Regions from separate parts of the Homo sapiens genome. Here region 2 is linked to region 1. Evidence: fine-mapped expression QTL. A gene starts in region 1. The other region holds a variant in brackets. All regions are shown on one strand. Distances are between the middles of the regions. Region 1 holds the start of MAP3K7 (mitogen-activated protein kinase kinase kinase 7). Region 2 overlaps LOC107986623 (a long non-coding RNA gene).

Region 1 (5,385 bases):
TACATACAATACATAAATAGATATACAGTGTATCTGAGGTATTAAAACTTTGAGGAGGGGCATTAAGATGTCTAAAAAGGCTCCTTAAAAGAACAATAATGAAAAAAAAGATTGAAAAACACTATTGTAGAATATAGCAAATACCACAAAAGGCAGAAGAGAATAATGGAAACTCAATTATTGATGTTATCATCAAGCCTATGATGGAAATATGGAACACTTGTCTGACATATATATGACCCAGAACATTAAAGTGGTGTTACTTTAGTCCCAGTTTCTGCTAAGCCTCCATTAAAATAGGTCCCAGATATCCCTACACCCAAAATGAGCCAAATAAGATCAGAATCTCATTTAGAACAAGCAAAGAGGTGGTGGGAAATGGATTTTGAAACCCTTGTCCTCTCAACCCCTGGAGAGTATAAAAGGGCCAAAATTGAAGACAGAGTTGGAAGTTAGAGAGTAGTTATTAGGGTGCTGACATGAGGGAGAATGGTGGAGGGTGCTCAAACTCGGAGGGACTTCAAGGAATTTACTTAAATAGTTTTGATATGTATCCGGAAACGTGTGGAGACACACAGACTGGTGACTGAAGTTGACATGAAATTCTGAGGTCAAGTTTCTATCCTTAATTCATGAAAGTTAAAGGAAATGCAAAGTCAAAATTGAAGTGAACTGAGAGAGGTTCAGCTCCCCTCCATCATTCCTCTGCATTTAAACTTTATTACTTAGGATTATTTGGTTACAAGTGACAAAAATACAACTTGGACCAGCTTAAATGAAATGGTAATTTACTAGCTCACATAACCAAATCACAGAATGTAAGAGATGGATTGGACCTTGGGAATGACTGAACCCAGAGACATAAACACTGATGAAACTTTCCATCTATTACTAGAAGCTAGGGAAAAGGCGCAGGCAGACAAAAAAGAAAAAAGTAATCTGCAAGCAAGTTGGACAAAAATTGATTTTAGACTGGCATCAATATTAGAAGTCCAAATCAGTGGATAAAACATAGAAGTGTTGGGGTAGAAGATATTCAAAATCATGTAATCAATTCACTTTGAAATGCATCTAGCAAAATGGTAGATGGATGTAAATATGGATGGAGAGATGAGATGCACATATGTATATTATGATAAAGCAAGTATAGTAAAATGTTAAAGGTAGAATCCTGGTGGTGGGCATATAGGTGTTCACCATAAATTCTTTCAACTTTTCTCTATATTTGACATTTTTGTAACAAAATTTTGGGGGGAAAAATCAAGCAGGAGAACTGCATCATGGCTGTGGTAATTAATTAGTCCTTTGTCAAGATTCCAGTCCTAAACTGAAGGTACAGGAAACATATCTTACACTCCAGGGAAAGGGAGGACTGACAAAAGCTATTCATTTGTACAGAATATCTAAGTATTTATTGAGTTCCCACCTGGCAGCAAGATCAAGGTGTTAAAAGGAAATCGGATATAGACCTGCAGAGTTATAGCACAAGGTAAGAAGTGACCATCCTTGTTTGGAAATGCAAGGGGAATGACAGGTGAAAATGACTGTCCCACTGATTATATCAGCTTCTACTGGGTATCAGTGCACCACGCATCATTTCACATGCCCTGATTTCTCACTTGGACAACCAACTGGGTGATGGCATCCTTAAGTGACATAGGAAAATAACATAGGAATATATTTGTGGTGGGTGACAACTTTTGAATTTGCTGTGGTATCTTGAAGTTTAGGTGTTTGTCTAAGTAGAGATGACCAATAGGTCCAGAATTCAGGAAAAATCTTGAGTATTTGGAGATTAGGAGTCATCATTATAAAAATAGTATGAGAAACAGAGACCTTGGGTAAGAGCATGCAAAGAGAGAGTGTACAGTGAAAAGAAATTATCGTTTCTTTCATTTTTTTATCCACTCATCAAACTGTCACTGCGTGTCACTAGAACTACGAATAAAAAGTGACAGAATGTTTCCCAGGAGTTTGTAACTTCTTGATGGTCAAATCCAATGATCTATTTGCAATCCCAAATGTGTTTAACATAATTCCACAGTTAGGCTTTATGTCAAACGGACTATATAAAATTCAACAGTTAGTTTAAAACTAAAACTTGTGCTGGTAGTACAACATGAGCAATACTGACCATCTTGGGGACAGAATGATCTAGTTTGTGAGGACCATAATTGCTTTAAACTCTCAGCGTGTTTTCTCATGTCCTGAAAATGGTGACAAAAATATTCGATTTTCAAGGCGACTGTTGATGATTCATTTACCAATCTAAAGCACTAGTGCCCCGCACTCGTAATCCATAACTTGAGATGAACACACCAAATTATAAATATCTTATTCACCTAATCCGTGGAAAGTTTGTAACACCAAAATATTAACTTCTGTTCTTGATCACTCAGCCTCCATAGTTATTCATGTTGCATGATCTGATTCGCTCTTTTAGAATTTCTCATAGCGTCAGGTACTAGCTCAAAATAACAGGAGCAACTGCTTCTTTCCATATCCCACATTGAGGAAAACACATTTTGCAAGCCGTCTTAAAGAAACAGGTCAACTTAGTTTAGGGATGAAACTTAAAAGTAAGCTTCGTCACAAAAAACACAGTTCAACACCACCTCGCCCGGCTGCAGGCAGCTCAGAGGACAGGAAGTGAGGCCAAGACATATTTCACGCAGCACAGACTAAACCCCAGCTTTTATCTTTCCCGCTGGTCCTTAAGGGACCAACCGTACTGATTTTCCGTCATGTTCCGCGCCACTTCCGTTCGCGCACTTTAATTACGTCAGGCGTCCTCTCTCGCGGTATCATCCGGTTGCTGAGGCCCTGTAATAAAGGTCTCGCGAAATTTGTTCTAGAGGTCCAAGTTTGCTTCTTAGCTTACTCCACCCCACCCCCAACCTGTCCCTCCTTTTCTTTCCAAGTCACAAAATTCTCCCCTCCCCTACCCCGGAGTTTACGGCCCTCCTCCTGTTTCCGATTTCAGCCCGGAACCGGAAGTGTAGTGGGCGGGGCCCGTCGGCGGAAAACGCAGCGGAGCCAGAGCCGGACACGGCTGTGGCCGCTGCCTCTACCCCCGCCACGGATCGCCGGGTAGTAGGACTGCGCGGCTCCAGGCTGAGGGTCGGTCCGGAGGCGGGTGGGCGCGGGTCTCACCCGGATTGTCCGGGTGGCACCGTTCCCGGCCCCACCGGGCGCCGCGAGGGATCATGTCTACAGCCTCTGCCGCCTCCTCCTCCTCCTCGTCTTCGGCCGGTGAGATGATCGAAGCCCCTTCCCAGGTCCTCAACTTTGAAGAGATCGACTACAAGGAGATCGAGGTGGAAGAGGTGAGCGAGGCCCGGCATGGAGACGCCGGTCCCGGCCTGCCCCGCCCCCGCCTCTGCCTGGTGCCGGCTCTGAAGGTGCCTCCCGGGGCCCCTCTAATTCGCGGGACCCTGCGGGGTCCACCCGGGAGACCCCACAGCCCTCAGTAACGTGGGAGTGGGGGTTACTCTCTGAGCTCAACTGCTCGGGAGTAGCTGCCTTTTTTCCTCTCTTGGGTACTCTTGATTTTGGATTTGATATTCCGGTGATAAACAGGAGAATGAACTGGTGAGATAGTGTGGTCCACCAGTTCTCGTATCTGTAAGTAGTAGTTTCAGCGAAGATCGTAGCCGTTCTGGAGTTTCAGTCCGCTGGACGTAATGTTCTTTTTTTTTTTTTTTTTTTTTTGAGACGGAGTCTCGCTCTGTCGCCCAGGCCGGACTGCGGACTGCAGTGGCGCAATCTCGGCTCACTGCAAGCTCCGCTTCCCGGGTTCACGCCATTCTCCTGCCTCAGCCTCCCGAGTAGCTGGGACTACAGGCGCCCGCCACCGCGCCTGGCTAATTTTTTGTATTTTTAGTAGAGACGGGGTTTCACCTTGTTAGCCAGGATGGTCTCGATCTCCTGACCTCATGATCCACCCGCCTCGGCCTCCCAAAGTGCTGGGATTACAGGCGTGAGCCACCGGGCCCGGCCGGACGTAATGTTCTTAATGGCCAAAGATTGTATTATATTCGACTTCTACTTCAGTACCTGGCATGTAGGGGATGCTCAATAAATGCTTGTTAAATTAGTAGATCATCAAGTCTAATAAAGTGTTTCCCTTAGCACCGAATGGTTCTCAATTTCTCCGATACCGCACAGCAATACTCGTAATGTTTAAATGCTCGGCTTTCAGTTGGGCTAATGTAGGTGAATTTCACCATAAGTAACATAGACTGGTCTACGATCAAAAGATGTTTCAAGTAGCATATTCTGAAGAGATAACGAATGATTTCGGTGACAATCAGAATATAATATTAGACTAGAAATCGCTATCAGAAAACCCATATCCTTTCTTTATTCTGCAGTAATTTATTTTAGAACAAGATATTTCAAAGTGACTTTAAAGCGTCGTTTTTCAAATTAACAGGTAAATTGGGTTCTAATGACTATAAAATTTAGAAAAGTAAAAACTGCATATATATTTTTTAAAGACACTTTAGAACTTGTTAAAAACTTTGGTTGAAAATACTATCTCTTACCATTTATTTGCCATTTTTTAAATTTATTAAGCACTTTGCGTTATATAGTCCATGAAAAACCTAGTGAAATATTATAGATTGTCAACGAGTTATGTCTACTTTAAAATTCTAAAATTATTTTTAAGTGTCAGCAAGTTCAAAGTAGTGAGATAACGTTCAACAAATAAATTTTTTTTCCTGTGCATGTTTTGGAAGAGTAATGGATTACTGAATTATATATGTTTTATCACATAAAGTAACTTTAGAGATTATTGAGAATATCCTCATTTTACAAGATAATATGGTGGAAAGAGCAAGGTCTTTGGAGTTAGAGGAAAGTTCAGTGTATCAGATATGCCATTTATTAGCTGTGTGATTTGGGGCAAGTTTCCTAACCCCTTTGAATTTTAGTTTACTCTAAGAAAGGGCTAATAAATTCTGTTTCATTTTATCTGCATAACAGATCTTAGTAGACATTATATGCAAAACACCTACCACAGGGCCTGACACATATTAGGAAACCTAGTTCCAGAGAGGAAATGTGACCTGCTTTAAGGTCATATGGCTAAAAGAAGACCTGTATTTTGAAAAGAGGGGGAAATGTTTTTAGTTTCTTTTTTTTTACATTGAGGCTATGATAAATTCCTTTTCCAGAAGTGGATAGTTGATGCAGCTTTCATGGCTAATATTCTTTTTTAAGAATAAAAATTCAGTGAGTCAGTATACAAGAATTGCAGTTTTTAAATAAGCGTTTACGTCTGCTCTGTGGTGAATTGCTATGCTTGTAGACTACAAATTGTTATATAATAATAACTTGTGCTTTATGGTCTACTAAATGCTTTCACAAACTTACTTCATT
Region 2 (5,385 bases), 350 kb before region 1:
TTGGTTTCTGGAGGGAATCAACAAGGGTTTCAGGACATACATAGTAATGTTTCTCAACTGTAGTCCCAGTACCAGAAACTTTAGCATTCAGGGAAACAGAAATGCAAATTCTCAGACCCCCAAGTCAGACCTACTGAAAGGGAAATTTTGGAGATGGAGCCCAACAGTTGGTGTTAACAAGTTCCTCCAGGTGATTCTGATGTTCACTAACGATTGAGAACCACCCAGTTAGAGCAGAAGCTTTGATATCATAAAGACTTGGATTTGAAGTCACTTAATGGTTCTAATCCTTAGTTTTCTTGCCTATAAAATGACTTTGAAAAACAGTAACATCACCTGCCTCAAAGGGTTGCTTTCAAGAAGGGAAAAACGAGATAGACTCTACAATGCCTGGCAGCAGCCAGCTTGAAGACAGAACAATTAAGTCATTTATCAGCCCACTATTTAGGGTAGAAGGGAAGCCTTCATTTAGGGAGAAAACTAAGCTTTCGTCTTTTTCCTGCAAATATCATTCTCGAACAGCCAGCTCAGGGACCCCTGGTATGCTGTGAATCCTTTCAGTTATGCTCCCAAATTTTGTTCAGTGTATGAAATTGGTCCTTGCTACTCAAGTGCATATACTTTTATTACCACGGATGTCAGAAAGAATTTTTTGCTGAGTGGGTCTTGTGATTTAGTAAGAGCAAAACTACAGCTTGCTGTGAGTAAGGTAAAAGACAGTGCACCTTTGCCCAAGAACGATTTCATATTGACTGGCCAGGCAAGAACTTGGCCTCTGGAGCACTGCGGGAGTGTTCTCAGGGCAGTGAAGAGGGGACAGTGACAGGTGGGAGTGGGGGTCCAAGAGGCCAGCGTCAGGATGAGCACTCACAAGGGCCAGGGGCAGTGACCTCTCCATCTCACCCCTCTGAAGGGGTCCACTCTTCTTCCTCATTTTATAGATGCAGAATCTGATGACGAGAGTCATTAAGTAAGGGGCCTAGTGTCACTGAGCCAGTACCCAGAGCTCCATCTGTCTACCCTTCACGGCAGGCCCGTCTAGCTCCCAATCCCTGGGGTGCTATTATGAACACGGTGCCATTATAGTCACACCATAGCGGTGATTGGGTTGAAATTATTGCTGAATTGCTTAGTTTTGTTTTGAGCTTTTGAATTCCTTCAAGTACACCACTAAAATTTCTAATATCCCAAAGTGTGCCAAGAACACAGAAAGGATGATAAGCAGTGGGCTAGGTTTTAATGGTAAGTTTCTACTCAGTTATTCTGCCCCGGTGCCTTGCCTTTGGAAACCACATTGCAAAGCTTCAGCCTCCTTTGATCCTGACTCCCACTAAAATGAGTTTCTCTAAAGCGGGTTTAAAACTCATATTTGTATTCTACCTTGAATGCTTACAGTGACCCATAGTCTCATTTCCCATCTTCCCCTTTGGAATTCACCCTGTGGCTTCTGTTTCCTGCTTCCCCAGTCTGAATTCTTAATTGGCCTTATCTCCCCCTCATCACCTCTGGCCCTGCTGGTAACCAGTCCCTAGAGAAGAGCTGGCAATTGTAACAGAACAGGGAGTGCTTTCCTCTCATTTGCTGGAATGATCCGGGGACTGGGTTCTGCACGCCAGAAATCAATTGAACCCATACAGCTTAGCACTTTGGCAGCTTTTCGACCCCCACCTGCTTTTCCAATATCATCTTATCCGTTCCCTTCTGATCCAATCCATTACATGAAACTGAAGTATACTTCATTTATTAGCTGCTCTTTTAAAATTCTGTTAAGACAGGGAACGGAAAAAGGCAGAAAGAAAAATGCTCGAAAATGGAAATTTTGGTCATTTTGGGAAAGGGGTGTTGAAGTCTCCGTACTTGAGGGGTTTCATTATATACTTCAAAGTAAAATTAACGCTATTGCTGAGTTTTATTCATTCCTTTCAAAATACATATCCATGCTGGCAGCATCCCACCTCTCACTCTTAGTAAACTCGCATTTAAGACTGATTGATCCTCTTATCTTTCACTAAGACTTCTTGGCCTTTGAAGAGCATTTCCTGTGTCATTAAGATTTTGATTTCCAGTTCTTGAAATCGACAACAAACACCACTTTCCTAGTTTTATGGGACAGTTGGGCCCTTGTCATTAGCACACACTTCAGGTTTCTGAACTGACATTTTGTTCAAGAGTATAACAGAAGAGCTAATTATGCTGCATCTCTGCTGTAGAGCTTTTGGCCTTGTAGAGGTATTCAGAACTTCGCAACTTGGGTTGGGTGGTTCTCAGGCCAAGGAAATCCCTATAGTTCGATGACACAATTAGAACGGCCAAGGCCTCCAGGATGTTTATCAAAATTACCCTCAGAATTTATCTCCAGAAACAATAAAAATAGAGATAAAGACAAGGTGAAGTGGGTGGGGTTTTTTTTTCCAAGTATTTCCTCATCAACTTAAATAAAAAGTAGAAGACAGCAAATTATATTCGCAGCTGAGGTGTTTTTTCTCTATTGCACATAGTTATCTGGTTTCAAAAACCAGTCACAGCACACACAATGTCAATTGCTGGAACTTTGGGGAAACAGAATGAGAGCACCTTGTTTTAGGAAATTATCTGTCTTAATTTTGAATCCACCTTAGTCGTCATCACTGGGGATTTGGAGAATGCTAAGCCCCTCTGATTTCTGACCCAGAAGGCATACAGGGGTTTTTTATGCTGAGGTTAATGTCACAACCTACGTGTTGAAAAGCATTTCCGACACTTCTTCTACAAAGTTAATCAGAAAATCCTAGTTCCTCTAGCGAAGCGTTAGCTGAAGGCCTCAAACGTGGCGATTAGGCACCAGCTGCATTTCTCATGTGCCCTCCTGCTGAACTTCCACCCATGTCTTAAAAAGAAGCCTCCAGCATCTTAATCCTAACTTCATGTCACTATTTGAAAGGTTACTATAGTCTAGACTTTCTTCATAATCTTCCAAAACAGAGTGAGTATTTTTACCCAAGCTGGAGATAGGAAGAGAAGAACAAAGCTCTTTTCTCTGTCCATGGCTCAGGCTAATCAAAGTTTCAATCACCTTCCAGCAACTTCCTGAACG[G/A]AAACCAGCCAGGTCTCTCATTTCTTTATCTATCGTGGCCTCGAGATAGCACAAACCAAAGTGCCATGGATTGTTTTCCTTATGATTTACGGAATCTTTCTGCTTCCTCTCATATTCACAGTATCCTCTCTTTAACTGAACAGCAGCCCCTACAATTGGGCGGCAGCATTCCTAAAGATTTAAAAAGTCTACAGCCCGAAAAACAAAGCCAATAGACATTTTTCATGTTAAATTCATGAGCTAAAAGAAACGTACAATGTTCCTCATGATATAATCTTTTTCCTCTTAGAGCTTCTATTCCTAATAGAATTTTTTTTTCAATTGTGATTATTATTTTTGTTTTCAGTAAATGTTACCTCGTCCCATCAGGGAAAGGTGAAACCCAAGACTTTCAGATGTGAATTTATTGTTGCTTCACTTTTCATTATGTGTTTAAATTGATATCTGGTAGATATATTTATAGTCTTGACTATTTCTGTTAAGACAGCAGCAGTATAACTGGCTTAAAACAGAAAAAGTAGAAAATGGTAATCTGTGATTAAACTCACATTCCGTAGCCTTCCAGCCAGCCACAGGCTAAGAGAAAAGGTGGTTTTCAGTTGTAGAGAAAAGAGTCAAGGGACACGGGGCAGGCAGGCTATGGTGGGGGCACTTTGAGGTATTTTAAAGCTGTGTCGGAATGTAATGATAAGCTCTCTCACAGAAGCAGCAAAGATCTGTGAACAATCCCTTTCTCCGAACTGCTTCAATTTATATCCACAATTGGTCATTTACGCTACATGTAGATGTGGTAATTTCCTTGACCATTTTAAAAAGTGAAATCTGCTAAGGATTTTTAAGAATTATTTTGAAAACTTATTACAACACCGGGGCTCATTCAGGGGCACCAGCCCCAGGCTTCTATTTCCATAGTTTCTCTTCACTAACCAAGGAGAGTACAATTGGTGTTCACCTATCAGCTAAAGTGACACATTTTGGTTGGATCCCTGTGAATTTATACCTATTTAATTAGGATTCATATACAATATGCTCTCTCTTCTTAATATCTTCTTTTCTAGCTTTTGATCAAAAAAATGAGAAAAAAGACAAAGCATCTACATTTTTGGCATATTAAAAATATTTGTTCTCATTGACAGTTCTTTCCATGGCAAATGGCATTATTTTGAAAGAAAGCTTGATTTCTTTACCTTATATTTGCTGGGCTTTACAGAATAGGATCCTGTTACCATTGAGGAAATGTTTTGGGACAATAGTTTTTCATGAGCTCCAGGAAAAAGTTATATAAAATTGTCAATCTCAAAATTTACATGAGTATTTTACATTAACATTTTTTCCCATAAGATTTCTCTGTTCTTTCTTCATTGTTAAGCAATTGTCTGTCTTGCAAAAAAGTATTAGCCAGATTTTCATAGTTAGTATTCAGACATTCTGATGCAAAACAGTACAGTTAGTACTATTTCATATGAAACCATTTGGATTTGTATCTGGTAAGATTATTTTTACTCATTTTTTTAGTCCCTTGTTCACAGTACCCATTTAAAGTCATTTATGGATTAATTAATTGACAAATGAATGCGTGCATGCCTTATGGTCCATCAAAATTTTTTTTAGCTTTTTATAGTATATGAACTTTCTGTGCTGTTGCTGTTTCTTTACAAAAAGGCCTTCTCATACTCAGAGGTCTATATACTTAAAGAACTTTTAATAATGTCATCAAAGAAAATGGACACTTTGAATTCAAATTCTAGCTCATTCATTTACCAGCTGTGTGATTTTTGAAGTTAAAAAAAAAGGAATAATAATACCTACATGGTAAGGTTGTTCTCAGAGCCAGAAATAATGTGTTTTAAATGCCTGTCACACAGCAGGCATTCTATATATTGATGTTGGCATTTTTTTAGCACTAGAAAAAAAGTCTTAAGAAACCCTGAGCACCTGCCACACTCACCAACTCCTTCTGAATAAAGCATCCATAAACACTTCCTTAGGCATGATCCTTGGTTTCTGAGACCCCACTGTTTTTCCTAGATGCCTAAATCAAGGGTTAGTATCTGAATCTAAAGCAGTCTGACATGCATTGGCCATCAGCCTGTGGCATCACCTTGTGCGAGAAGAAATTCACACAATAACAAGACTGCAATAAATAAGGACAACCGATCAATCCTATCCTCTCTTCTCTCAGGGAGTTTGAATGTAAGTCACCCACAGATCAGATGTGGAGCAGAGCTGATGTGAAATGGTTTGTGGAGAAAAAGCGGCATGCAGAAGCTCTCAAAGAGCCAAAACAAGAGGGGGAGTTAGGAATAGCATAG

Evidence for each region. PIP is the estimated chance that this variant, and not a neighbour inherited with it, causes the effect. A credible set is the group of variants that fine-mapping cannot tell apart.
Region 2: its variant is the best candidate, but not a certain one, in a credible set for the expression of MAP3K7 in spleen (GTEx, PIP 0.60).

What each region holds. Positions count from the first base shown.
Region 1 is chr6:90,584,705-90,590,089 of GRCh38, reverse strand. It overlaps MAP3K7 (mitogen-activated protein kinase kinase kinase 7), which reads left to right and starts at 3,018. Exons shown (of 17, transcript NM_145331.3): 1 at 3,018-3,326. The coding sequence starts at 3,207. LOC124901363 (a long non-coding RNA gene) reads right to left here and starts at 3,296. Exons shown (of 2, transcript XR_007059680.1): 1 at 2,135-3,296. RefSeq lists silencers at 2,886-3,082, 3,079-3,198.
Region 2 is chr6:90,932,596-90,937,980 of GRCh38, reverse strand. The region is part of intron 3 of LOC107986623 (a long non-coding RNA gene); the gene reads right to left. Among named protein-coding and RNA genes, the nearest start is that of MAP3K7, 350 kb to the right of the region's middle. The variant G/A (reference allele first, on the strand shown) is at 3,074.